Linked DNA regions of Homo sapiens. The protein of the gene in region 6 purifies or fractionates together with the protein of the main gene of each other region. This does not show direct contact. Each region holds a gene or a part of one and is shown on either strand. Other genes may lie near its edges.

Region 1 (3,351 bases), on a different chromosome or scaffold from region 6:
CAGTCCGTCGATAGCAACAAAGAGGAGCTCTGACTGTCCCTTCCTAAGCTGTGGGCACAGTGGCCAGGCCTCCCCACCTAGGCCCATGGTCAGTCCCTCTTTCCCCGCAACCTCACACTCCCGCCAATGCGTGATTGCCAAAGACCACTCAGATCATGGCAGTGTCTGCAGCAAAGCCACCAGATGGCACGTGAGGGCTGAAAGTCGGGGATGCGGTGGTCTCCTCCCTCCTGTCAGGGGGCAGAAGGGCATCCTCTGCCAGGTGGGAGCTGCCTTCCCCAGCCCAGTTTGTCTGCAATGGAGCTGTCGCTGAGCCCCAGGCCAGCCCAGTTCTGCCCCGTCTCAAGTGCTCCTCTTCCTTCCAAGCCCCTCCTCAGATGGGCCTGCATCCCGCCTGTGGAGTGCTTCACAGGGGAAACCCATCCGCATCTTAAGAGTTTGTGGCAAGCGCTTTAAAACAAAAGCTCTGATATCCTCAACAACCACAATGGGCAGGTGGGATTGTTGCCCCAGATGACTGCTGAAGACACCAGCTGTGGGATGTCAAGTAATTCCAGGGACCCCCAGCTGGGAGTCCCCGTCTGTGTCACTTGCCACACACTGCCTCAACCTCCCCGCCCCATTTTCAGCAGGGTTTGGGCTTAGCTACAGAGCCCAAGAGGGTCAGCCCTGCTTATCATCATAGGCCCAGCAGGCTGATCTCGAGCAGCGATAGGACAGCTCCCTGCAAAGCCATCTTAGCAACTTTCTCACTGAGAAGCAGGATTCAGAGCTGCTCTCCCCAGTTGCACCCCCTGACTCATCTTCCAGCTGGCTCTTCTCTCCCATCCTACTCCCTTCTGTCTCCCTGCCCTCTGCCATCCTGAACCATGCCTTGCTTCTAACCTGCCTGGTCAAGTTTTGTGAAACTTATCCTGCTGTCTCGGGCTGGCACCCATATGTGCTCACCATGTGTAAGGTGACATTTCCAAATGCCTTTGTGTGATAATGATGATGAATTTGGTTCCTAGTCTCTTCTTCATTGCCCTTCCTCACCAGCAATCTGCACTTTCCCATCAGGCGTCTTAGTCTCATTTGTAAGTGCATAAGATAATCACAGTGATTTTTCAAAGCCCAGGATCATAAGTGATTGCTTTTTCACTGGTTCTTACTAACTCTTCATGTATCCACTCAGAATTCCAAGGACAATCCCAGCACTCTGGGAGGCCCAGGCAGGTGGATCACCTGAGGTCAGGAGTTTGAGACCAGCCTGACCAACATGGAGAAACCCTATCTCTACTAAAAATACAAAACTAGCCAGGCGTGGTAGCACATGTCTATAATCCCAGCTACTGGAGAGGCTGAGGCAGGAGAATCACTTAAACCCGGGAGGCAGAGGTTGCAGTGAGCCGAGATTGCGCCATTGCACTCCAGCCTAGGTAACAAGAGGGAAACTCCATCTCAAAAAATAAGTTAATTAAATTAAATTAAAATAAAACATGCGCTGGGTACAGTTGCTTACACCTGTAATCCCAGCACTTTGGGAGGCCAAAGTGGGCCGATCACCTGAGCTCAGGAATTCGAGACCAGCCTGGCCAACATAGCAAAACCTTGTCTCTACTAACGGTAAAAAAAATTAGCTGGGCATGGTGGAGCATGCCTGTCATCCCAGCTACTTGGGAAGCTGAGGCAGGAGAATTGCTTGAACCTGGGAGGTGGAGGTTGCAGTGAGCAGAGACCGAGCCACTGTACTCCAGCCTAGGTGACAAAGCAAGACCCACAGTAAAGCCCCCACACCCCATCTCAAAAAAATAAAAAATAAAAAAGAACAAAGTATGCTACAACAAAAGTGAAAAGAGAAAAAGAATTCCAAGAACCCGGGCTTTCTGGATCCAAAGCTCTTTCATGGGGACGTCCTCTTCCCCTCTTGGCTTGGTCCAGACTTTTTCTTTTTCTTTTTTTTTTTTTTTGCAATGGATTTCGCTCTTGTCACCCAGGCTGGAGTGCAATGGCACGATGTCGGCTCACTGCAACTTCTGCCTCCCGGGTCTAAACAATTCTCTTCCCTCAACCTCCCAAGTAGCTGGGATTACAAGCGCCTGCCACCACGCCCAGCTAATTTTTGTATTTTTAGTAGAGACAGGGTTTCACCACATTGGCCAGGCTGGTCTCGAACTCCTGACCTCAGGTGATCCACCTGTCTTGGCCTCCTAAAGTGTTGGGATTACAGGCATGAGCCACCACGCTCGGCCCAGTCCAGACTTTTTAACTACCTGGCCCCACTGCAGACACAGTTCCCTCTAGTCCTTCCCAGAGTTACAAGAAGAGAACTCCAGTAGCCTTATTCTGTCAGGGACGAATTGTTTACCCCATGATAATGTAGGATATCATAAATTCTTCTTCAAAGGTTTTAGCCTGTAATTTGTTAAGTACATTGAGTTCTGAGATCCTCTCCAAAGAACCAATGTATCAGTATGTTCAGCTCACCTGTTCTTTGTTCTTCATTTTAACTTTTAATTTCCTCATTCTTTATGTCTCCTTGCCCCTAGTTTCAGTAAACAATCCCCTCCTAGCCTCTGTCACCTGCTCTGACCTGAGTCACCTTTAGTCACCTGGTCCGTAACCATCTTTCCTGTCTAAACTTCTCACCCCACCACTCTGGCTTATACCCCTGCTCTCTTTAAAATAGCCAGTCAGAATTAGCTTAGATTGTGCGGTCCAACCCTAGCCCATAGGGGAACAACACAGCAGTAGGGGGTACCTGCATCAGGGATAAGAACCCATTCCCCTCCCTTGTTCCGGTGTGCTCTCGCCATTGCACCATCCATGAGACGCACTCTTGTATAGAAGTAAAATTGCCTTGCTGAGAAAATGTATGTTTGAGTGCTATTTCTTTTGTGGCACTGAAAATTTATTTCTAACAAATTTGGGGTCTCATTTGGGATTCCCATCCTCCTCTGAGGAGGGTCTAGACCTCTCCCATGAGGAGGCACGTCCCACTGCCTTGTTGCGGTGGCCACAGGGGTAAGGAATCGAGACCAACCAGTGTGACGAATAAACCTATACTCTCAGCAAGGCAGAAAGAAACGGGCTGGCGACCTGGGGGAAAGGATCCTCATGTACCACAGCGACCAAGTAAGTGTGCAGAGACCAAGCTAAGAAACATCGCAGGGGTGACAAAGTATTTCCTTGGTGGTCAGGATATTCTGGGGGTTGAAAGTGTGCATGAATGCAAGGAGCCTCCAGCAGGTGGGGCTAAAGGATAGGCGAGACATCTCCAACAGGGGAGATTGAGCTTAACCAGGACCCAAGATGGGAAATGCCCCAAGTAAGGTAAGAGATAAAAAGGAGAAAGCTAGCAACAGTAATATT
Region 2 (3,500 bases), about 42 Mb from region 6:
CTTAAGGCCACTTGTCATTATGGGGCTCCATTCTCATGACCTCATGTAAACCTCAGGACCTCCTAACACCATCCCATGGGGAGTTAGGGCTTTGATCATGATGCTCCAGCAAAGACTGGAAGTCAGAGAGAAGTGAGCCGCAAGCTTAGACGGAGGAACAGCAGTCTGGGCAGAGATAACAGCCTGTGCAAAGGGCCTGAGGCAGGGGCCAGCCTGGTAGGTGAAGGGACAGGGAGACTGTCTGGAGCTGACGGAGCAAGGCGAGGGCCTTGGCCGAAGAAGGGAGGGCCTCGTGGGCCCTTGTGTGAGACCCCCTCCCCAATGGGGCGGGGCCCTCAGGACCCAGCAGAGAAGGGGCAAGGCCTAGGCCAGCCCTTACCAACCCCATGGTCCTTGCATGGAGAGGGGACTTAGGGGCAAGGCTGGGGCAGCAGGCAGGTGAGGGGCAGGTGATCCGGCTCCAGGGAGGTGAGGAGGGGTGGGACTCTGGATCTGCAGTGAGGCGGGGACAGACTGGATTTCAGACCAGAGGTGGGCGTGAAGGAACCGTGGGCAGCTGAAAATCGGGGTTGCTGAGGTCTGAGCCAAGCCGGCGGGGCGGGTGCTGCCCTGAGGGGTCCGGCAGGCACAGGGGGCACCAAGATGCTCGATGGGCTTGAGTTGGCCATTGCACATAAACGTCTGGAGCTGGGTGAGGACAGAAATGATGATGACAGTGTGACGGTCAGCGTCGGGTGGCCATGGGGCGGTGCTGGGAGAAGTTTCCAAACGTTGCCCTCGCAGGCGGGAGAGACAGGAAGCCAAGCCAGTGGGCCGGGCCTGTCTGGGCAGCTCAGCCAAGGGCGCTGGACTCACACTCAACGCCTCAGCCGACTCTGCAGACAGAGGGTGCATTGAGCCAGGCGCAGCGGGCCTTCCGCCCACCGTCCGTGCCTGGCCATGAGGGCGCCCGCCCTGGGGCCAGACGCAGGCTGTGTCTCAGAAGAGCATTTCAGCCGCTGCTGCAGCCAGGGCCCATCCATGCGGTGTCCTGGTGGAGGGCCAGGCCTGGCAGAAGCAGCTGTGCCGGGCCCAGGACCCGGAGGATGCGGTGGGGAAACCAACTTAGGCCCCCATGGCACTGGGGGCGGCAGAGGGAGAGCCAGGCCCTCAGGCAGTGCACACCGGGAGACGGAGCGGGGCTCTCGCTGGGTGTGGTAAGTGAAGGGCCCGCCCCAGCACAGACGTGCTCCTCTGTCATTTCCATGGTGTGGGGAGCAGGCCCCGAACTGTGTGGGGTCAGCAGCTGTCCTCAGAGCTACCTTGCTCATCTGGGTGGGGGTGGGCAGCTGGTGGCCCTTCAGAGAACAGGCCGTCGACCCCAGCCCCGTTCTGTCCCTTCAAGCTGCACCACCCGAGGCTGGGGCGGCTCCACCTCAGTGCCTGGCCGGATCCTGAATGTGCCGGAGCTAACCCTGATCCCGCTGACCACTGTGGCCACAGGGTGGCGATGGGAGCCCTGCCCCGGGCGTTTGTGTTGGGAGTGGGAGGAGCAGTGGACGGCCCCAGGTCCCAGTGTCCTGCTCAGGCCCCTGATGGGCCCCACGTGTGCCTCTGGCCGCACAGGTTTCCATCCCAGGCCCCTGGAGAGCAGGAGCTTAGGGTGTGTCCTCGGAGCCCAGAGGCCAGGCCAGGGAAGCGCACAGCCCACACTCAGCCAGTTCCCGGTCCCTGCCCAGCTCTCATGAAGCTGTAGGCATTCGCCGTGGGCTGGTCTGGGGCCAGCGGGCTGGAGGCGGAAGACCAGCCTGGGCCCCCAAGTCCTCAGCTCCCTCTGCTCCTGTCCCCTTCCCCCCAGCTGCGTTTAGGAGCTCACCATTTAAACGGGTCACATGGACAGACTCAGGAAGGGGCTGCTAGCAGCCAGGCCGATCCAGGGGCTCCCCTCTGCCCCATAGGTAGCACCTTGCTGTCCACCAGGTGCCTTCTTAGCCGTCTGAAGCCCCCAGTGCATCCTCATCACTGCCATTCACTAGGTGGCAGCAGGACCCCCTTCCCAGTTGGGGGTGGAGGCTTGGACTCCATTTGGTGGCACAATGCTCAGACAGCAGCCCCCCAGCAAGACCCAGGCCTGTTCTCATCCGCAGCATGGGCCTGTAAGGGAGACCCTGAGAGACCCTGACACTCGGGCCCATTTCCTCCCTCCCTCATGGTCGGGGCCAGGCTCATATTTAAATCAGGGCCCTGCTGAGGCTGGGGTCAGGGGGATGTTGGCTGAGTGACAGCTGTGCAGGTGAGGCTGGGAGGGGCTGTGTGTGGGGCCCAGTGCCTGAAATGACCGAGTGACTGCCCGCCTGAGCCGGCTCTCTCCCTCTGTGGATGTTGTGTTCCCCGGCAGGGCCCAGAACCCAGGGCTAACGGTGGGGTCCGGGTGCACCTGAGGCCCCGGCACCCTGCCTGGCCATTCATGCTGCTAACTTTGACGAGTGCCCCAACCCTGGTGGCTGTGCTCCCTGATGCAGTGGGGCCTGGACAGGGTAAGGGGGTGTCTGGGCCTGCCCCCCGACATCTGCCTGATGCAGGCAGCCACCAAGCAGCTTCACTTTAGGAGCTGAGCCTCTCGGGGGGATGAGTGCGGAGGGGAACTGCCCGGCCCGGCCCATCCATGCCGGCGCAGTCTGATGAGGAGGGCGCTGAGCTCCGAGGCGTAGTAATGGGGCCAAGTCTGATGGTCTGGAGGTGCCAGGACTGGATTCTCAGAGTGCCCACTGATGCCAGGGCTGGTTCTGGCCCCGCCCTCGGACTCACACTGGGTGTGCGCAGGGCTCCTGGGCACAGCCCGTGTCCAGTGTGTCCACGGGTGGAGGGACGCTTGGTTCCCAGGAAGACTGGGTAAGGGTGGGCATAGGGGGGTGGGAGCTGTGGGTGAGCAGGGAGGAGGATGAGGGTCCTCCCAGCTGCGAGAGTCTCCCTGGAGATGTGCCAGGCGTAGGGACAGCAGAGACAGGGTCCTCAGTGTCAGCCTCGTTCCGCCGTCGTCCCCTCTGCCTAGAACGTTCTGCTGCCCTTTCCACAGTGGCTGTGCCCCTGTCCGTCCCGCCGCCTCCTCAGGGAAGCGCCCGCAGACCCTGGCTCTCAGCCACAGCATCGGGCCCTTCCCACAGGGCTTCCTGCCTGGTTGAGGACATTCCCCACTTCCCGGATTCCATCCCATTTTTTCCGTTCGCCAACTGATTTCTGATCTGCCAGGTCTGTCGTGCCCTGGATACAGGCTCCTGAGAGTGCTCAGGGAGCGGCTGGGCTGAGGTAGGGCCCACTCTCCCAAACTCCCAAATCCTTTCGGGCCCCGCAGGGCTGAGCGACACCCGTCTCTGCCAGGGCTGTGTTGGGACAGGGCTGAGTGACACCCGTCTCTGCCAGGGCCGTGTTGGGACTGAGGCTTGAAGGTGGGCCTGGCTGTGGGGCTTCCCAGGGGCCCGGGACAGGCACTGGTGGCTCCGCTGAGTCTGCAGCTGGCCAGT
Region 3 (3,168 bases), on a different chromosome or scaffold from region 6:
CATCTGGGTATTCTAGGCACTGACAAAGGAGGCAAGCATAAATAATGGTATATGTCCTCCTCCTAGATTGTAAAATTTTGAGGAACACTAGTCCTCGTTCTGTGAATCTCTGTAATATTTATTTATTATTAAGTTTAGAGTTGCTTTTAAGTTAACATCTATTAATTAATTCTATTACCTGCATGTTGTGCTTGTGTATAACATGTCCATTAATTCTATTAGGTCAATTCTTGGAGTCAAAATTACCTTTTAAAACTTTGAGTTCTACAACTCAATACTTTGTGGTCACCTGAACATTTGGAACTTAGGTTGTCTCTTTGAGTAATAGGGCTTAAAGTTTAAATCATGAAATGATCTACAAATCCCTGCTGCATAGCAACCTCTTCCTGAGCTACCTGAGCCGGATTCGTCTTTCAAACATTCCTTCCCATTTTCACAAAGGCTTCAGGCCTCAGGGACATGAACAAATATACAGAAAAAAAAAAATTTATTGATTTTACCATTCAATCTTATGAGTAGTCAAATTTATACAAATTAAAACATCAATGTGATACCATGTTATATGTACTATTTTATCCCTTCCCCCAAAATAAAAATAGTTAGATAATATTTTACTAGCACTTATGCACTAAACTGCATAAACACATAGCCTATTGGTGACATTATAATTTGACACAACTTTTCTATACCACAATTTCATAATTTCTATCAAAGAATCAAATCTCATTTGTGAAAAATCATTTTAAGGTATTAACGAAAATTATTAAAAAGGCCACTGGTATACAGATGTTAATCATCACTCTGTTTATAATTAAAATTTTATCTTAATAGATAACGATAAGAAATAAACATTTCATGACATAATCATTGATCACTTAGTTATCAACTATAAAAATGTAACTATGAAACCTATGATATAAATAAAAAAAAGAGACACCACATTTCCTATAAAAATGCAGGATACTTTTTAGACAAGCATATACCAGGAATACATAACATAGGTTGATATCGCATTAAGGTATCTAGATTGTCAGAATTTTTTAAAGTATACTTTCTACAATATTCATATTACTTCTTTTTTTTTTTTTTTTTTGAGACAGAGTCTCGCTTGGTCGCCCAGGTTGGAGTGCAGTGGCACAATCTTGGCTTACTGCAACCTCTGCTTCCCAGGTTTAAGCGATTTTCCTGCCTCAGCCTCCCAAGTAGCTGGGACTACAAGTGCCCGCCACCATGCCCAGCTAATTTTTGTATTTTTAGTAGAGGCAGGGTTTCACCATGTTGGCCAGGCTGGTCTTGAACCCCTGACCTCAGATGATCCACCCACCTCTGCCTCCCAAAGTGCTGGGATTACAGGGTGAGACATGTGCCCGGCCTCATATTACTTCTTTACATTTTAAACTAATGATTTAATATATTTAAAGAAAAGCAAGTCTTTGTCTCAAAGCAAGGAAACTTTATTACCTTCTCAATTTTCTGATTTTCTATACTCACACCTTCCAAAAGGTTTCTAGAGTCATTTTATACCCAAGGAATACATGTGTAATGTCCTAAAACAGAACTGTCAATTTAAAAATATTTAATATTATACCTCCTTTCAAAAGTTTCTAAAAGCTTTGGAGTTTTTAGTTTTATAAATATGTGTCCATAAAAATTGTTTTCTCACTCCTGATTCTCTAAATATGTCACAATCCAAAACTAAGAAAAGCACTATAAAAACAAATGAAAGATGGTATTAAAAACACTATTATTTATATGTTAAGTTTATGCAAGAGGCAATATTTTAAATCTTCTAAGTAAACCTTATGAATCATCTTAGTATGAGAGCAGAGAAAGGAAAAAAGGCTCAATGCTCCTCTAATTTTTAACAATCTAACAATGTATATTTAATAAAAACTAAATAGAAATTATTCATATTTTTCATTTAAGCATATTTGTTGGCATGGGAGTCAGATGACTAGATTTTTCCCACAGTGACTTTTTCATTCTAGGTGGTGATGTTTAAAGACAATATAAACATGCAGTTTATTATTACTAATCAGTTAGACTACTGTTGCTTCTTAAGTAGTCCATAGGCCTCATAGATCACTCATGAAAAATGTTTTAAAAAATAAAAAGAAAACATATTTTGTCTTTAACACAAAAGATTTTTTTAACTGATTTAAGTACTTTTTTTTTCTTTTTTAACTTATTTCTCATTATTTCTTCTTCTGGAACTCCCCAGGCTGTGGAGGTTCAAAACCAGAAACAACCAGCAGTAAGTCTATTTTAATTACTTCTGTTACAGGCATGAACTACAAAATATATTCTGCAAAGGTCAATTGTATTATAGATGCCTTCTGTCTAAAACCTAAATATTTCATTTCCATAAAACAATCTAATAATATTTGCAAGAAAATAATTTCAGCAACAGGTGATATGAATCAACATTGATGTTCATCTGAAAGTTTTATTTTCTTATATAACCCAAATCATGTATCTTTGGTTTTCATGTATATTTAGCAATATGAGAAAACTCTTTCAACATTTCATATTGGAAAAAAATGAAAACATAAGTAAAGCTTAATATTTCCCCTTTCCACTTTTTAAGACAAGGGAAGATCCTTTTCTGACCCATCTTTGAATACTTCTCATACATCTATATTTACTTCCCCTTTCGTTTCCCAAATATGTTTGAATACATTTAAATGTGTCTCGTTTTAGGAGAAATGTTTGCTTTGTAGTATAATTTTGTCAATTTATTTCTATTCATATGGAAAGGTCTACTGACAAATTTTTAAACAGAGGCACATAGATATAGACAATTCTTTATCTAATCTTTTGTGAAGAAAATTAAACCAAAAAAAATCCAAAATCTAAATCCAGGAATCTCTCCACATCACATTATGTTACTATTCTGCTATAGTTTAGGAAAAAATAAATGTGCTCTTGGGCTAATTTTTAAATGAATAAAATTTGAGACCAATTACAAATATGTGGTGAGAATACATACGTGTGTGTGCGCCATTCTGTGTGTGTCTGCATGTTGTGCTTGTGTATAACATGTCAAAGTTCTCAATGAGATTTTTCTCTGTGTTGTACCTACAATAGCTAACATATAAGATCACTTTCCATATATGCCAATCTCTGGGCAATATGGTTTACATTATGAATAAACTCATCTAATTTCTT
Region 4 (3,324 bases), on a different chromosome or scaffold from region 6:
ACTAAAGTTAGTTGATTTTCTGTTACTCTCTTGTCAGTATCATTTCCATCACTGCACATATTAAAATTAGTAATTTTTTTACTTTGTCTCCTCCATTAGACTTTAATCCTATAAAAACATATACTACATCGCTTCATTGTTGTAATCTATTATACCTAGCACCATAATTGTACATATAGTACTCAAAACTAATACATACGACAGGTATTCATATTTTCAAAAACCAAAAACATTAACCCAACATACAGAAAATACTGTTAAAAAACATCCATGGAAATATTGATGAACAGAGGGAGAGGAGAGGCAAGAGCCCAAATGCAAACTGGGAAATTGTATTCTGAACCATCAGTTAGGTTTTAATTTATAACCTGCCTGGAGACTGTCTACAGTGTTGACTGAGTTCAAAACATAAAGCACAAATAAGAAAAGTATACCCCAAACCACACTTCTTTAATTAAGCTCTAAGAAAAACTCAAATAAATGAAATAGTAAAACTTTGATCAGTAATTCCTTATTGTTTATTCTCCTCTTACAAAAAGACACTTGGGACAAATAAATACAAAATGGCATATATCATATTTAGCAATGGGCAAATACACATTTTCTTGGTATTCTCCACAAGAATAAACTAATAAAATTTTCAGAGGCATACTCTTCTACCCATCTCTTACCCTCTAAAAAAAAAAAAGGCAATTATTTTAATTCCCTGTAATTTTTAACAATGAATTCTCAAAATAAGTAATCTAGGACTATTCAGGGACCAAGACATCTGAATCAACAAGTTAAAAAAAAAATGTCTGTATACACACACACACACACACACACACACACACACACACGATGTTGCCCAGAAGCTCCAATTAATGAAGAGTCTTAAAAGTTTTTCATTTCATATAGTTTGCATGAATAGAGCCTGTTCTATTCTAATCTCAATGGCAAATAATATAAAACAGAAAGCTGAACACAACATGTGTGTGTGTGTGTGTGTGTGTGTCTACTTTTCTGTCCTAAGAGAAAACATTAAATACAGGTATATTTAATATACAGTGAACATACCATGTGTTTTCTTAAAGCCAACAAAATCCTGATTTCCTATAGCTTGGAGGTGATACAGAAGGCAGAAGACAAATATCAAATTTAGCTAATAAAATATACCCTGCCTATTGGCTCCAGCAATACACTATAGAGTTTGAGCAATGACGGATACCCAAGTGTATATGTTTTGTTAAAATTTATCTTCAGGCTAATACCTGAAGAGGTTGGCTAATACTTTAAATCAAATATTCTTACTTAATGATTTATCCATCAAATGGAAATATGTACAACATATTTCAAATCAGAAAAGGGGTGAATTTTCCCCCTGCCCTTCAAAAAAATATTTTTAAAAATCCACTTGAAATAATTTCTTATTTGATGCTTTTTAATCACTTTCCACTTTATGACAACCATTTTTCTAGAAAGGCAGACAAGAATATAAAATGACTAAGGGGTCACTATGAAAACAATCAAATGGATTTGAAATTTACTTCTGTGTATTTTCTGTACTCCCTAAGTCTTGTGCTAATTAATTACATTTTACTTCATCCCCTGTAATGTTACAAATATGCACCTTAAAATAGAAAAACTTGCTTTTATATTTTAAAACCCCCTCCTCCTTACCTATCTTCCCAAATATTTTAAGCAGAAAATTAATCTTGTTGCTTTAAGGATTGATGTAATATTTGCGAAAAACAACCCCTAATAAACCCTTTAGACTTTTTCGAACCAGCACCAAATTTAAGGGGTTTATTCACTCTGAGGTTGCATGGAAGATGGAAATTAAAAATATCAGTATAAGTAGAACCACATTTAAGAAAAAGCACCTAAAGATGGAGGACAGATAATTCTAACATCCTACACACACACAGTGGTAAACCATATTCATGTTTCTATGTATGTAATAAGTTCTCCAAAAATCTAGGTATTTTTGGTTCTGGTACTAAGTCTAAATTTTTTTTTTTTAAATTTCAAAGGCAATTTAAAACTGGGGGGAAATACATTTTTAAAATTTTGGGGTTGAAGTTCACTACACTATGAGACTAATTTCGTATGTGGCAAGTTGCAACTCTCCAAAGGTGTGAATAAACATCAGAAAGCCCAAAGTGAAGAGCCAGTACATCAACATGCATGATCAGGAATCCTATGAAAGTCACAAGGCATTGGGATTTGGTGATTTACATTAACCTCCTCCTGGTAGAAGATAGTGTTTCATGATGAATGCAGACTGTGCTCACTGCTCATGAGACACACACATCACTACTGCTGAGGTCCCACTTTGTGATAATTTAGAAATCATCCAAATTTAACTCCAGAAAATATAAATCTGGAATATGAATGTGAAGACAGACAGTACAAACAGCAGTTGAGTGAAACCTGCCTGTAACGATCTTTATTTTTTTTTCCTTTAAGGCTACAGAAAATCTGTACATAAACAAGGCAATTAATTCTCATAATAAAAATAACCCCTTACAAATAGCCAAGGTGTCCAGTCAGATTCCATAGTGAGTATATGTTGTATCACATTTTATTCCACTTGTGTACTTTTTTGTGAGTCTGCTGGGTTAGGATCAATTCTTTCTGGAAATATTAGCTTCTCACAAACTGCTTCCTTTATTGGTAAATACTGGGATATTTCATTAGGTTCCGTGAAGAGGGAAGGTGGAACATGCTAGGAAATACATAAATCATATTAGCATATTCAGTTACTGTACTGAAATTTTTTACAAATGTTTTGGTTCAAGCATTCATAAAGCATGGAAATTTTAAAATCAGGTGCAATATATGCATATGTGCTCCTAAAAATAATAGGTATTTCTTGATACGGAATCATTCAACTTTGTTACTGAATGATTTCATCAAAGATCACAGGGTTATATAATCTATAATGTTCCCACAAATGTCCTAAGAATTTAATACATCTTAATCCAACCCTATGTATCTCCTGCTTTTGTAACTTGAAAACACTAGTCTTCGGTTAGAGCACAGCATGTAGTCTACAATAGAATCTAAGTAGTAACTTTTCTGTTCCAAGTATACTCTATACCCAGACAGAAGTACATACTAAGCGTGAAAAAATAAAATCAAGTTTATAGGAAGGTACCAATTTTTAAGCAACCCATTATAGAATCCTAAGTTCTAAGGAAGGCTTCACAGGTCCCGGGGAGTAAAAAATAAAGAAAAATGATGCCAAAACAAACAAATTATGGTACAGAATCACCACATTTTCGGAAGAGAAAAGGAGACTATGTAGAAAGAAATAAGGCGGCAGGGTGGTAAGTGTAAAGA
Region 5 (3,500 bases), on a different chromosome or scaffold from region 6:
TTCTCAATCTTTTCCCCACCTTTTCCGCCTTTCTATTCCACAAAGCCGCCATTGTCATCCTGGCCCGTTCTCAGTGAGCTGTTGGGCACACCTCCCAGACGGGGTGGTGGCCAGGCAGAGGGGCTCCTCACTTCCCAGTAGGGGCGGCCGGGCAGAGGCGCCCCTCACCTCCCGGACGGGGCGGCTGGCCGGGCAGGGGGCTGACCCCCCCCACTTCCCTCCCGGACGGGGCGGCTGGCCGGGCGGAGGGGCTCTTCACTTCCCAGTAGGGGCCGCCGGGCAGAGGCGCCCCTCACCTCCCGGACGGGGCGGCTGGCCGGGCGGGGGGCTGACCCCCCCACCTCCCTCCCGGACGGGGCGGCTGGCCGGGCGGGGGGCTGACCCCCCCCCACCTCCCTCCCGGATGGGGTGGCTGCTGGGCAGAGACGCTCCTCACTTCCCAGATGGGGTGGCTGCCGGGCGGAGAGGCTCCTCACTTCTCAGACGGGGTGGTTGCCAGGCAGAGGGTCTCCTCACTTCTCAGACGGGGCGGCCGGGCAGAGACGCTCCTCACCTCCCAGACGGGGTCGCGGCCGGGCAGAGGCGCTCCTCACATCCCAGATGGGGCAGCGGGGCAGAGGTGCTCCCCACATCTCAGACGATGGGTGGCCGGGCAGAGACGCTCATCACTTCCTAGATGTGATGGCGGCCGGGAAGAGGCGCTCCTCACTTCCTAGATGGGATGGCGGCCGGGCGGAGACGCTCCTCACTTTCCAGACTGGGCAGCCAGGCAGAGGGGCTCCTCACATCCCAGACGATGGGCGGCCAGGCAGAGACACTCCTCACTTCCCAGACGGGGTGGCGGCCGGGCAGAGGCTGCAATCTCAGCACTTTGGGAGGCCAAGGCAGGCGGCTGGGAGGTGTAGGTTGTAGCGAGCCGAGATCATGCCACTGCACTCCAGCCTGGGCACCATTGAGCACTGAGTGAACGAGACTCCGTCTGCAATCCCGGCACCTCGGGAGGCCGAGGCTGGCGGATCACTCGCGGTTAGGGGCTGGAGACCGGCCCAGCCAACACAGCGAAACCCCGTCTCCACCAAAACCAGTCAGGCGTGGCGGTGCGTGCCTGCAATCGCAGGCACTCGGCAGGCTGAGGCAGGAGAATCAGGCAGGGAGGTTGCAGTGAGCCGAGATGGCAGCAGTACAGTCCAGCTTCGGCTCCGCATGAGAGGGAGACCGTGGAAAGAGAGGGAGACCATGGGGAGGGGGAGGGGGAGGGGGAGAGGGAGAGGGAGAGAGAGAGGGCATAATGCCTATGTTGCTTTATGATACAATTATCTTTCCAGATGTGTTGTCTCCTCAGTCAATCGGCTCCTGGAGGGTGGGACTTCTTTTTTTTTTTTTTTTTTTTTTTGAGATGCAGTCTTGCTCTGTCACCCAGGCTGGGGTGCAGTGGCACGATCTTGGCTCACTGCGACCTCCGCCTCCCAGGCTCAAGCAATTCTCCTGCCTCAGCCTCCCGAGTAGCTGGGACTACAGGTGCCCGTCACCACGCCCGGATAATTTTTGTATTTTTACTAGAGACGAGGTTTCACCATATTGGCCAGGCTGGTCTCGAACTCCTGACCTTGTGATCCTCCTGCCTCGGCCTTCCAAAGTGCTGAGATTACAGGCATGAGCCACCACGCCTGGCCGGAGGGTAGGACTTCTGAGATTTTCAGACTCTATCATGCCTAGCTTTGTGTGTAGATTGGCAGGTTCCTGGTCAAAGGAGTGCAGTTGGGAGGACTAGGGACCTACTGACCCTCTTTTCCCCAGGCGTGCTCCCATGCATATGCCCACACTCTCCCACACACTCCTGCTCCTGCCCTCCTGGCCTGTGACTCTTGGTGCCTCTTCTTGCAGCCAGTGTGGCTGTCTGTGGACTTTGATAACTGGAGAGACTGGGAAGGGGATGAAGAGATGGAGCTGGCTCATGTGGAACATTATGCAGAGGTGAGAGACAACACCTACTGTGTTCTGCCCACTTGATCATTCTTTGTGTTTCTCTGCACACATGTCTCTGGAGGATTGTCACTGGGGCCAAGCAGAGATATGCAAGCTCTCTAGGCAGGTTACTCATTGATGCTGATATTCTTTACGTATTTTGTGCAATGTTTATTTAATAGGGATGAGAGGAAAGAATATTATTGAAATTATATACATTGATTCACTTATTCAGTGTAGAGCCTGTATTCTGAAGAAGTTTGACAAAACGTTTTTCCACTTTTCTGTAATTCTTGTTCTACTGTTTTCTGTGTGTGTGTGTGTGTGTGTGGTTTTCTGTCGCCTAGGCTGGAGTGCAATGGCGCGATCTCAGCTCACTGCAACCTCTGCCTCTGGGTTCAAGCAATTTTGTCTCATCCTCCTGAGTAGCTGGGATTACAGGTGCCCACCACCACTTCTGGATAATTTTTGTATTTTTTTAGTAGAGACGGAGTTTCACCATGTTGGCCAGGCTGGTCTCAAATTCCTGACCTCAGGTGATCCACCTGCCTCACCCTCCCAAGTGGTGGGATTACAGGCGTAAGTCACCATGCCTGGCCTGTGTGTGTGGTTTTCTTTTTGAGACAGAGTCTTGCTCTGTCTCCCAGGCTGGAGTGCAGTAGCTCCCTGCAACCTCCACTTCCCAGGTTCAAGTGATTCTTGTGCCTCAGCCACCTGAGTAGCTGGGATTACAGGCATGCGCCACCACCCCTGGCTAATTTTTTTTTGTATTTTTGGTAGAGATGGGGTTTCATCATGTTGGCCAGGCTGGTCTGGAACTCCTGGCCTCAAGTGATCTGTCTGTCTCAGCCTCCCAAAGTGCTCACATTACAAATGTGAGCCACCAAACCCGGCCTCTGTGTGTGTGTGTGTGTGTGTGTGTGTGTGTGTGTGTGTGTGCGCGTGTTAAGCCAGACAACTTCATGGGATGTTAAAACTAGCAGTATAAAAACTCACATCATAAATAATTGGCCCCCAGTAAATCACACACTGTCGTTATATTATTTGGTTTCAGTTATAAAAACACTAGCCGACTCCAATCTGGATTTGTGTTAAATTTTCTTTTAAGAAGGGGATCAATTTACTTTTCTCAAATTAATTCCAGTGATGTTTTAAAGATGGGAGCAGTTGCCTGACCAGTTCTGGCTGCAACCATTCTTCTATGGACCATCAATGTGCAGATTGTTCTTCCTTCACTCCCTTCTCCCTTGTGATTATTTTTTCTTCCCACTAGCTTTTGAAGAAGGTCAGCACCAAGAGACCTCCACCTGCCATGGATGATTTGGATGTAAGTAAAGCCTTCCCCTCAACCCTTCAGTTTCTTTGTAGCCCTTAAAAACAACCCACTAGAGAGCTCCTATCCCAGTTCCTAGCACACAGTAGTTCTCAGTGCCTGTTAACCAAATTTGAGTTTGACCCAAGAGGGCTAATATTCTTTTTTTGGGGGGTGGGGGAGGAGTTTCACTCTTTCGCCCAGGTTGGAGTGCAGTGGCCCG
Region 6 (3,500 bases):
ACCTTTTGTACAAGAAAAAGCAGATAAATAAGAATAAATATTCATATTTGCTTATATTTGCAAAAATAAACACTAAGATGGTAAACATGAAGTTAATACAAATGATTACATATGGGGAACAAACTGAATGGAGTGGATGAAAACGGTTGAGAGCAAACATTTTAGTGCATACCTTTTTGTATTGTTTTGATTTTATTGAACCATGAAACTGTATTATCTGTTCAAATAAAATTTATACACAAAAAAGAATATTCTAACAGAGTTGTTGAAATCATAGAAAAAATCATCTCTCAGGACTGGAACATCTCTTTGGACTGGAACTTCCTAGGTTTCAGCACATCTCACCAGTCCCTCCACCTATTTGCAGGGTCACTGATAATATACTGGCCATGGCCCGCCCATCCTCTGAGCTCCTGGAGAAGTACCACATCATTGATCAGTTCCTCAGGTAAATGCTGTATTGTTCACACACGAGTGAGCAAACTCATGTGTTTTTTTCTTTCATTGCCTTTGTTTCAAGTGAAAGAGTGCTTTCATTTTAACAATAGGCAGTGAAGAGTGTATTTCAAATGAGAAATTAAGATTTTTGAGAGTAATTAATAATGTTGATTAATACCAAAAATGGTTAATTTTTTTTAAATGCTAGCTCCCAATATGACTGACTGCCCTTTTTCCTTTAAGCCATGGCATAAAAACAATAATCAACCTCCAGCGCCCTGGTGAGCATGCTAGCTGTGGGAACCCTCTGGAACAAGAAAGTGGCTTCACATACCTTCCTGAGGCTTTCATGGAGGCTGGCAGTAAGTTCCTCCCACCCTCCTCTCATGAATTATCAAGGGCAGCACTCAGAGGCTTTTCTCTGCTGGGTTCTTAGATTAAAAAGATGATGGAAATAAATACCTTCTGCATCATAGTAAGGTTTAGAAAAAATGAGCTACCATTCTCTTTGGTATTGCTGTTGAAAGTAAAGGATTTCTTTGTTCCTGTAAGAGGGATGTTGGGAGGAGACCCTGTAGTAATAATGATTAACATTTAGTTAATGCTTACAGTGTGCCAGTCACTATTATCTCATTTAACCCTTAAAGCAGTTGTGTAACAAAATTATTATTTCTGTTTTACATATGAAGCCACACGGGGCTTAGAGAATTACCTGTTTGCCTAAGATCACACAGCTTAGAAATGGTAGTCAGGTTTGGAACCTGGACATGCTCCAGGTTTACTGCTGTCCAGCCCTGCTCCCAAAATGATGCCCAGGAATTCTACTTCTAACAATTTCAAAGCCGCCTCAATCACAGGAGCTTTGGGATGAAATACACTCAACATGTGTCCTTCAAACCAGGCTGGAAAGGATAAACAATCTTGGAACTTGTTTTTAAGAAGCTTATTTACACTAGATAGAAAATCCATATATACTGTCTTAAGCTATTTATCAGTCATTTAGACACATTTCCCTGCTTAAACAAGAATGTATGCTTTCTCTCCAAAGCTGAGTAACTATAGCATGAATCATTGACTTTATTAATTTGTAATTATACTTCGCCATAATTCTTTCTGGCTGAGTTTCTGCAGGAAATGTCTTTTTTTTTTCATATTTACATTTTTATTTTATTTTTTTTTAATTTTTTTTTATTATACTTTAAGTTTTAGGGTACATGTGCACATTGTGCAGGTTAGTTACATATGTATACATGTGCCATGCTGGTGCACTGCACCCACTAACTCGTCATCTAGCATTAGGTATATCTCCCAATGCTATCCCTCCCCCCTCCCCCCACCCCACAACAGTCCCCAGAGTGTGATATTCCCCTTCCTGTGTCCATGTAATCTCATTGTTCAATTCCCACCTATGAGTGAGAATATGCGGTGTTTGCTTTTTGTTCTTGCGATAGTTTACTGAGAATGATGATTTCCAATTTCATCCATGTCCCTACAAAGGACATGAACTCATCATTTTTTATGGCTGCATAGTATTCCATGGTGTATATGTGCCACATTTTCTTAATCCAGTCTATCATTGTTGGACATTTGGGTTGGTTCCAAGTCTTTGCTATTGTGAATAGTGCCGCAATAAACATACGTGTGCATGTGTCTTTATAGCAGCATGATTTATAGTCCTTTGGGTATATACCCAGTAATGGGATGGCTGGGTCAAATGGTATTTCCAGTTCTAGATCCCTGAGGAATTGCCACACTGACTTCCACAATGGTTGAACTAGTTTACAGTCCCACCAACAGTGTAAAAGTGTTCCTATTTCTCCACATCCTCTCCAGCACCTGTTGTTTCCTGACTTTTTAATGATTGCCATTCTAACTGGTGTGAGATGGTATCTCATTGTGGTTTTGATTTGCATTTCTCTGATGGCCAGTGATGATGAGCATTTTTTCATGTGTTTTTTGGCTGCATAAATGTCTTCTTTTGAGAAGTGTCTGTTCATGTCCTTTGCCCACTTTTTGATGGGGTTGTTTGTTTTTTTCTTGTAAATTTGTTTGAGTTCATTGTAGATTCTGGATATTAGCCCTTTGTCAGATGAGTAGGTTGCAAAAATTTTCTCCCATTTTGTAGGTTGCCTGTTCATTCTGATGGTAGTTTCTTTTGCTGTGCAGAAGCTCTTTAGTTTAATTAGATCCCATTTGTCAATTTTGTCTTTTGTTGCCATTGCTTTTGGTGTTTTAGACATGAAGTCCTTGCCCATGCCTATGTCCTGAATGGTAATGCCTAGGTTTTCTTCTAGGGTTTTTATGGTTTTAGGTCTAACGTTTAAGTCTTTAATCCATCTTGAATTGATTTTTGTATAAGGTGTAAGGAAGGGATCCAGTTTCAGCTTTCTACGTATGGCTAGCCAGTTTTCCCACCACCATTTATTAAATAGGGAATCCTTTCCCCATTGCTTGTTTTTGTCAGGTTTGTCAAAGATCAGATAGCTGTAGATATGTGGCGTTATTTCTGAGGGCTCTGGTCTGTTCCATTGATCTATATCTCTGTTTTGGTACCAGTACCATGCTGTTTTGGTTACTGTAGCCTTGTAGTATAGTTTGAAGTCAGGTAGTGTGATGCCTCCAGCTTTGTTCTTTTGGCTTAGGATTGACTTGGTGATGCGGGCTCTTTTTTGGTTCCATATGAACTTTAAAGTAGTTTTTTCCAATTCTGTGAAGAAAGTCATTGGTAGCTTGATGGGGATGGCATTGAATCTGTAAATTACCTTGGGCAGTATGGCCATTTTCACGATATTGATTCTTCCTACCCATGAGCATGGAATGTTCTTCCATTTGTTTGTGTCCTCTTTTATTTCCTTGAGCAGTGGTTTGTAGTTCTCCTTGAAGAGGTCCTTCACATCCCTTGTAAGTTGGATTCCTAGGTATTTTATTCTCTTTGAAGCAATTGTGAATGGGAGTTCACTCATGATTTGGCTCTCTGTTTGTCTGTTGTTGGTGTATAAGAATGCTTGTGATTTTTGTACATTGATTTTGTATCCTGAGACTTTGCTGAAGTTGCCTGTCAG
Region 7 (3,500 bases), about 31 Mb from region 6:
CTTCTGCCTGGGCATCCAGGCGTTTCTATACATCTTTTGAAATCTAGGTGGAGGTTCCCAAACCCCATTCTTGACTTCTGTGCACCCACAGGCTCAACACCTCATGGAATCTGCCGAGGCTTGGGGCTTGCACTCTCTGAAGCCACAGCCTGAGCTCTGTGTTGGCCCCTTTCAGCCATGGCTAGAGCGGCCGGAGGGCAGGGCACCAAGTCCCTAGGCTGCACACAGCATGGGGACCCTGGGCCTGGCCCATGAAACCATTTTTCCTCCTAGGCCTCTGGGCCTGTGATGAGAGGGTCTGCCATGGAGACCTCTGACATGCCCTGGAGACATTTTCCCCATTGTCTTGGGAATTAATATTCAGCTCCTCATTACTTATGCAAATTTCTATAGCCAGCGTGAATTTCTTCTCAGAAAATGGGATTTTGTTTTCTATCGCATTGTCAGGCTGCAAAGTTTCTGAACGTTTATGCTCTGTTTCCCTTATAAAACTGTATGCTGGCCAGCATGGTAGCTCATGCCTGTAATCCTAGCACTTTGGGAGGCCAAGGCAGGTGGATCACCCGAGGTCAGGAGTTCAAGACCAGCCTGGCTGACATGGTGAAACTCTGTCTCTCCTAAAAATACAAAAAATTAGCTAGGTATGGTGGTGGGTTCCTGTAATCCTAGCTACTTGGGAGGCTGAGACAGGAGAATCGCTTGAACCTGGAAGCGGAGGTTACAGTGAGCTGAGATCACGCCACTGCACTCCAGGCTGGGCAACAAGAGTGAAACTCTGTCTCAAGAAAAAAAAAAAAATGAATACCTTTAATAGCACCCAAGTCACCTCTTGAATGCTTTGCTGCTTAGAAATTTCTTCTGCCAGATACTCTAAATCATCTTTCTCAAGTTCAAAGTTCCACAAATCTCTAGGGCAAGGGCAAAATGCCACCAGTGTCTTTGCTAAAACATAACAAGAGTCACCTTTGCACCAGTTCCCAACAAGTTCCTCATCTCCACCTCAGCCTGGACCTTATCGTTCATATCACTGTCAGCATTTTCGTCAAAGCCATTCAACAAATCTCTAGGAAGTTCCATACTTTCCCACATTTTCCTGTCTTCTTCTGAGCCCTCCAAACTGTTCCATCCTCTGCCTGTTACCCAGTTCCAAAGCTGCTTTCACATTTTCGGGTGTCTTTTTAGCAGTACCCCACTCTCGGTACCAATTTACTGTATTTGTCTGTTATTATGCTGCTGATAAAGACATACCTGAGACTGGGCAATTTAACAAAAGAAAGAGGTTTAATTGGACTTAACAGTTCCATGTGGCTGGGGAGGCCTCAAAATTATGGCGGAAAGTGAAAGGCACATTTCACATGGCAGCAGACAAGAGAAGAGAGCTTGTGCAGGGAAATTCCGTTTTTTAAAACAATCAGATCTCTTGAGACTTAGTATCACGAGAACAGCACAGGAAAGACATGCCTCCATGATTCAATTCCCTCCCACAACACATGGAAATTCAAGATGAGATGTGGGTGGGGAATACAGCCAAATCATATCAATTTCTAAGCAACATATTTGGATATTTACTCTGGAAATGTAGTTACAAATGAGCAGTTCCAAATAGAAGAGTGCAATTTACTTCAGCTTTGCACAAAAGCAGGTAAAGAGGTATGCCTATATTTTGAGGCTAGAACAACTAGAATATCATATTTCTTTTCTTAGTGGTGATAGGAAAGCCTACTTTCCTGGACCAGAGAAGCAGATGTAAGTAGCCTTAGGAATTGCTGTGCTTTTTCTGCTGCCAGTCCCCTGCTCATGATTATGGAGAAAAATGTAACTGAGATGCTTAGGTAGTGAGGAGGCTTCAAGGCTTAGGGAATGGGCACTCTAGTAAATGTGACATTTAGACTATAAGCAAGTAATTGGTGGGGGATGTTTGTGACCTAGTGACATATAACCTGTATTTGTTGTTATTGTTGGTCATCTGTAGCTGTCAATTTCCTATTAAGTATGAGGTCCTATAGCTCCAGTATAAAATACACCAAGTATGCAGAGGGGCTTAGTAACATTTAGTGAATTAGGTAACTAAGTCTTCAGCCCCATAGATCCTCCCAAACAAAATGCAAAATGGGTGTCTGTTCTGCAGCTGGCACCATGATCAGTCTCTACCATGTCTGCAGCCTGACATGCTACTTTGTATATGTGCTACTGAAGAGAGCACAGACATGCTACTTTGTAAAACCAGTCTGTGCAGTAATTTTTCTAAAGAAAAGTTAGGACCCTTATTCTTCAAAGAGAGTATGCACTGAATATATCTGATGTCATGCAAAGTATTTTTCCTTTTAGAAAAAGAGCCCCATATATTGCTTATCTCACTCGTTGTCGACAAGGACTACAGACCACACAGGCTCACCTGGAAAGGCTATTGCAAAGAGTTTTGCGGGACAAAGAAGTGGCCAATCGATACTTTACCACTGTCTGTGTGAGATTACTGCTTGAGAGCAAAGAAAAGAAGATCAGGGAATTCATTCAAGGTAACTCAATACCTTTAGTTTAAGCATCTCTTCACCTGTAATACTGTTGGGAAGATTTAGAAATACTGTTTTGTTTTGCTAGTTTGTTCAAGTATCTGCATGCCTTAAATACCCAATTATTTTATGGAATCTTAATAAATTAAACTTTGATGTCAAACCAATAAATTGCATTTTTCTCCTGGATTGAATATCTGTAGCTTACTTTTTAAATTGGGGACATTGGTAAATTTTTGGATCTATACAAATTTTCTCATTTTTTTTAAAAAGCCAAACATATTTTTTTTAGAAACTTTTGAGACGGAGTCTTGCTCTGTCGCCAGGCTGGAGTACAGTGGCGTGATCTCGGCTCACTGCAACCTCTGTCTCCCTGGTAGCTGCCTCAGCCTCCCAAGTAGCTGGGATTATAGGCACGTGCCACCACGCCCAGCTAATTTTCATATCTTTAGTAGAGATGGGGTTTCACCATGTTGGCCAGAATGGTCTCAATCTCCTGACCTCGTGATCCGCCCACCTCGGCTTCCCAAAGTGCTGGGATTACAGGCGTGAGCCACTGTGCCTGGCCTAGAAACATATTTTTATAACAAATTCCTTGCACTTAAACTTTCACATATTTCTTGCTTTTTCTCCTGATTTAATTATATGGCTACATATTGTCCTAAAATAAACTACACTGAAACACTTTTGGCTTTAAGATCATGGTGTCTGCATAGCTAGTGATTAAAATTATTTCTATGATTTCCTTTTTAAAATTATTTAGATAGTTTTTATTAAACTATTTAAAAATTATTATTTTGCTTTGGAGACTTTCAGAAACTCACCGCAGCTGACGATAAAACTGCTCAGGTAGAAGATTTTCTGCAGTTTCTTTATGGTGCAATGGCCCAGGATGTCATATGGCAAAACGCGAGTGAAGAACAGCTTCAAGATGCACAGCTGGCCATTGAGCGAAGCGTGATGAACCGGATTTTCAAGCTCGCCTTCTAC

Evidence for each region.
Region 1: the proteins of PTPDC1 (region 6) and FOXRED2 purify together in Homo sapiens (co-immunoprecipitation; one large-scale study listed by IntAct). This does not show direct contact.
Region 2: the proteins of PTPDC1 (region 6) and GPSM1 purify together in Homo sapiens (affinity purification with mass spectrometry, with the first as the bait; one large-scale study listed by BioGRID). This does not show direct contact.
Region 3: the proteins of PTPDC1 (region 6) and CSN3 purify together in Homo sapiens (affinity purification with mass spectrometry, with the first as the bait; one large-scale study listed by BioGRID). This does not show direct contact.
Region 4: the proteins of PTPDC1 (region 6) and TIPRL purify together in Homo sapiens (affinity purification with mass spectrometry, with the first as the bait; 2 studies listed by BioGRID). This does not show direct contact.
Region 5: the proteins of PTPDC1 (region 6) and PTGES3L purify together in Homo sapiens (affinity purification with mass spectrometry, with the first as the bait; one large-scale study listed by BioGRID). This does not show direct contact.
Region 7: the proteins of PTPDC1 (region 6) and GAPVD1 purify together in Homo sapiens (affinity purification with mass spectrometry, with the first as the bait; one large-scale study listed by BioGRID). This does not show direct contact.

Annotation. Positions count from the first base shown.
Region 1 is NC_000022.11:36,486,690-36,490,040, reverse strand, and holds the end of FOXRED2 (FAD-dependent oxidoreductase domain-containing protein 2 isoform 1 precursor), read left to right. Parts: coding exon 1-33; 3' UTR 34-2,851; downstream 2,852-3,351.
Region 2 is NC_000009.12:136,344,539-136,348,038, forward strand, and holds part of GPSM1 (G-protein-signaling modulator 1), read left to right. Parts: intron 1-3,500. UniProt on the Homo sapiens protein: Guanine nucleotide dissociation inhibitor (GDI) which functions as a receptor-independent activator of heterotrimeric G-protein signaling.
Region 3 is NC_000004.12:70,245,597-70,248,764, forward strand, and holds part of CSN3 (kappa-casein precursor), read left to right. Parts: intron 1-2,221; coding exon 2,222-2,254; intron 2,255-3,168. UniProt on the Homo sapiens protein: Kappa-casein stabilizes micelle formation, preventing casein precipitation in milk.
Region 4 is NC_000001.11:168,199,286-168,202,609, reverse strand, and holds the end of TIPRL (TIP41-like protein), read right to left. Parts: intron 2,708-3,324; coding exon 2,564-2,707; 3' UTR 501-2,563; downstream 1-500. UniProt on the Homo sapiens protein: May be a allosteric regulator of serine/threonine-protein phosphatase 2A (PP2A). Isoform 1 inhibits catalytic activity of the PP2A(D) core complex in vitro. The PP2A(C):TIPRL complex does not show phosphatase activity.
Region 5 is NC_000017.11:42,970,081-42,973,580, reverse strand, and holds part of PTGES3L (putative protein PTGES3L), read left to right. Parts: intron 1-1,884; coding exon 1,885-1,974; intron 1,975-3,238; coding exon 3,239-3,292; intron 3,293-3,500. Other genes in the region: PTGES3L-AARSD1 protein, read left to right, coding at 1,885-1,974, 3,239-3,292.
Region 6 is NC_000009.12:94,087,464-94,090,963, forward strand, and holds part of PTPDC1 (protein tyrosine phosphatase domain-containing protein 1), read left to right. Parts: intron 1-367; coding exon 368-448; intron 449-681; coding exon 682-800; intron 801-3,500. UniProt on the Homo sapiens protein: May play roles in cilia formation and/or maintenance.
Region 7 is NC_000009.12:125,352,326-125,355,825, forward strand, and holds part of GAPVD1 (GTPase-activating protein and VPS9 domain-containing protein 1), read left to right. Parts: intron 1-2,328; coding exon 2,329-2,516; intron 2,517-3,318; coding exon 3,319-3,500. UniProt on the Homo sapiens protein: Acts both as a GTPase-activating protein (GAP) and a guanine nucleotide exchange factor (GEF), and participates in various processes such as endocytosis, insulin receptor internalization or LC2A4/GLUT4 trafficking.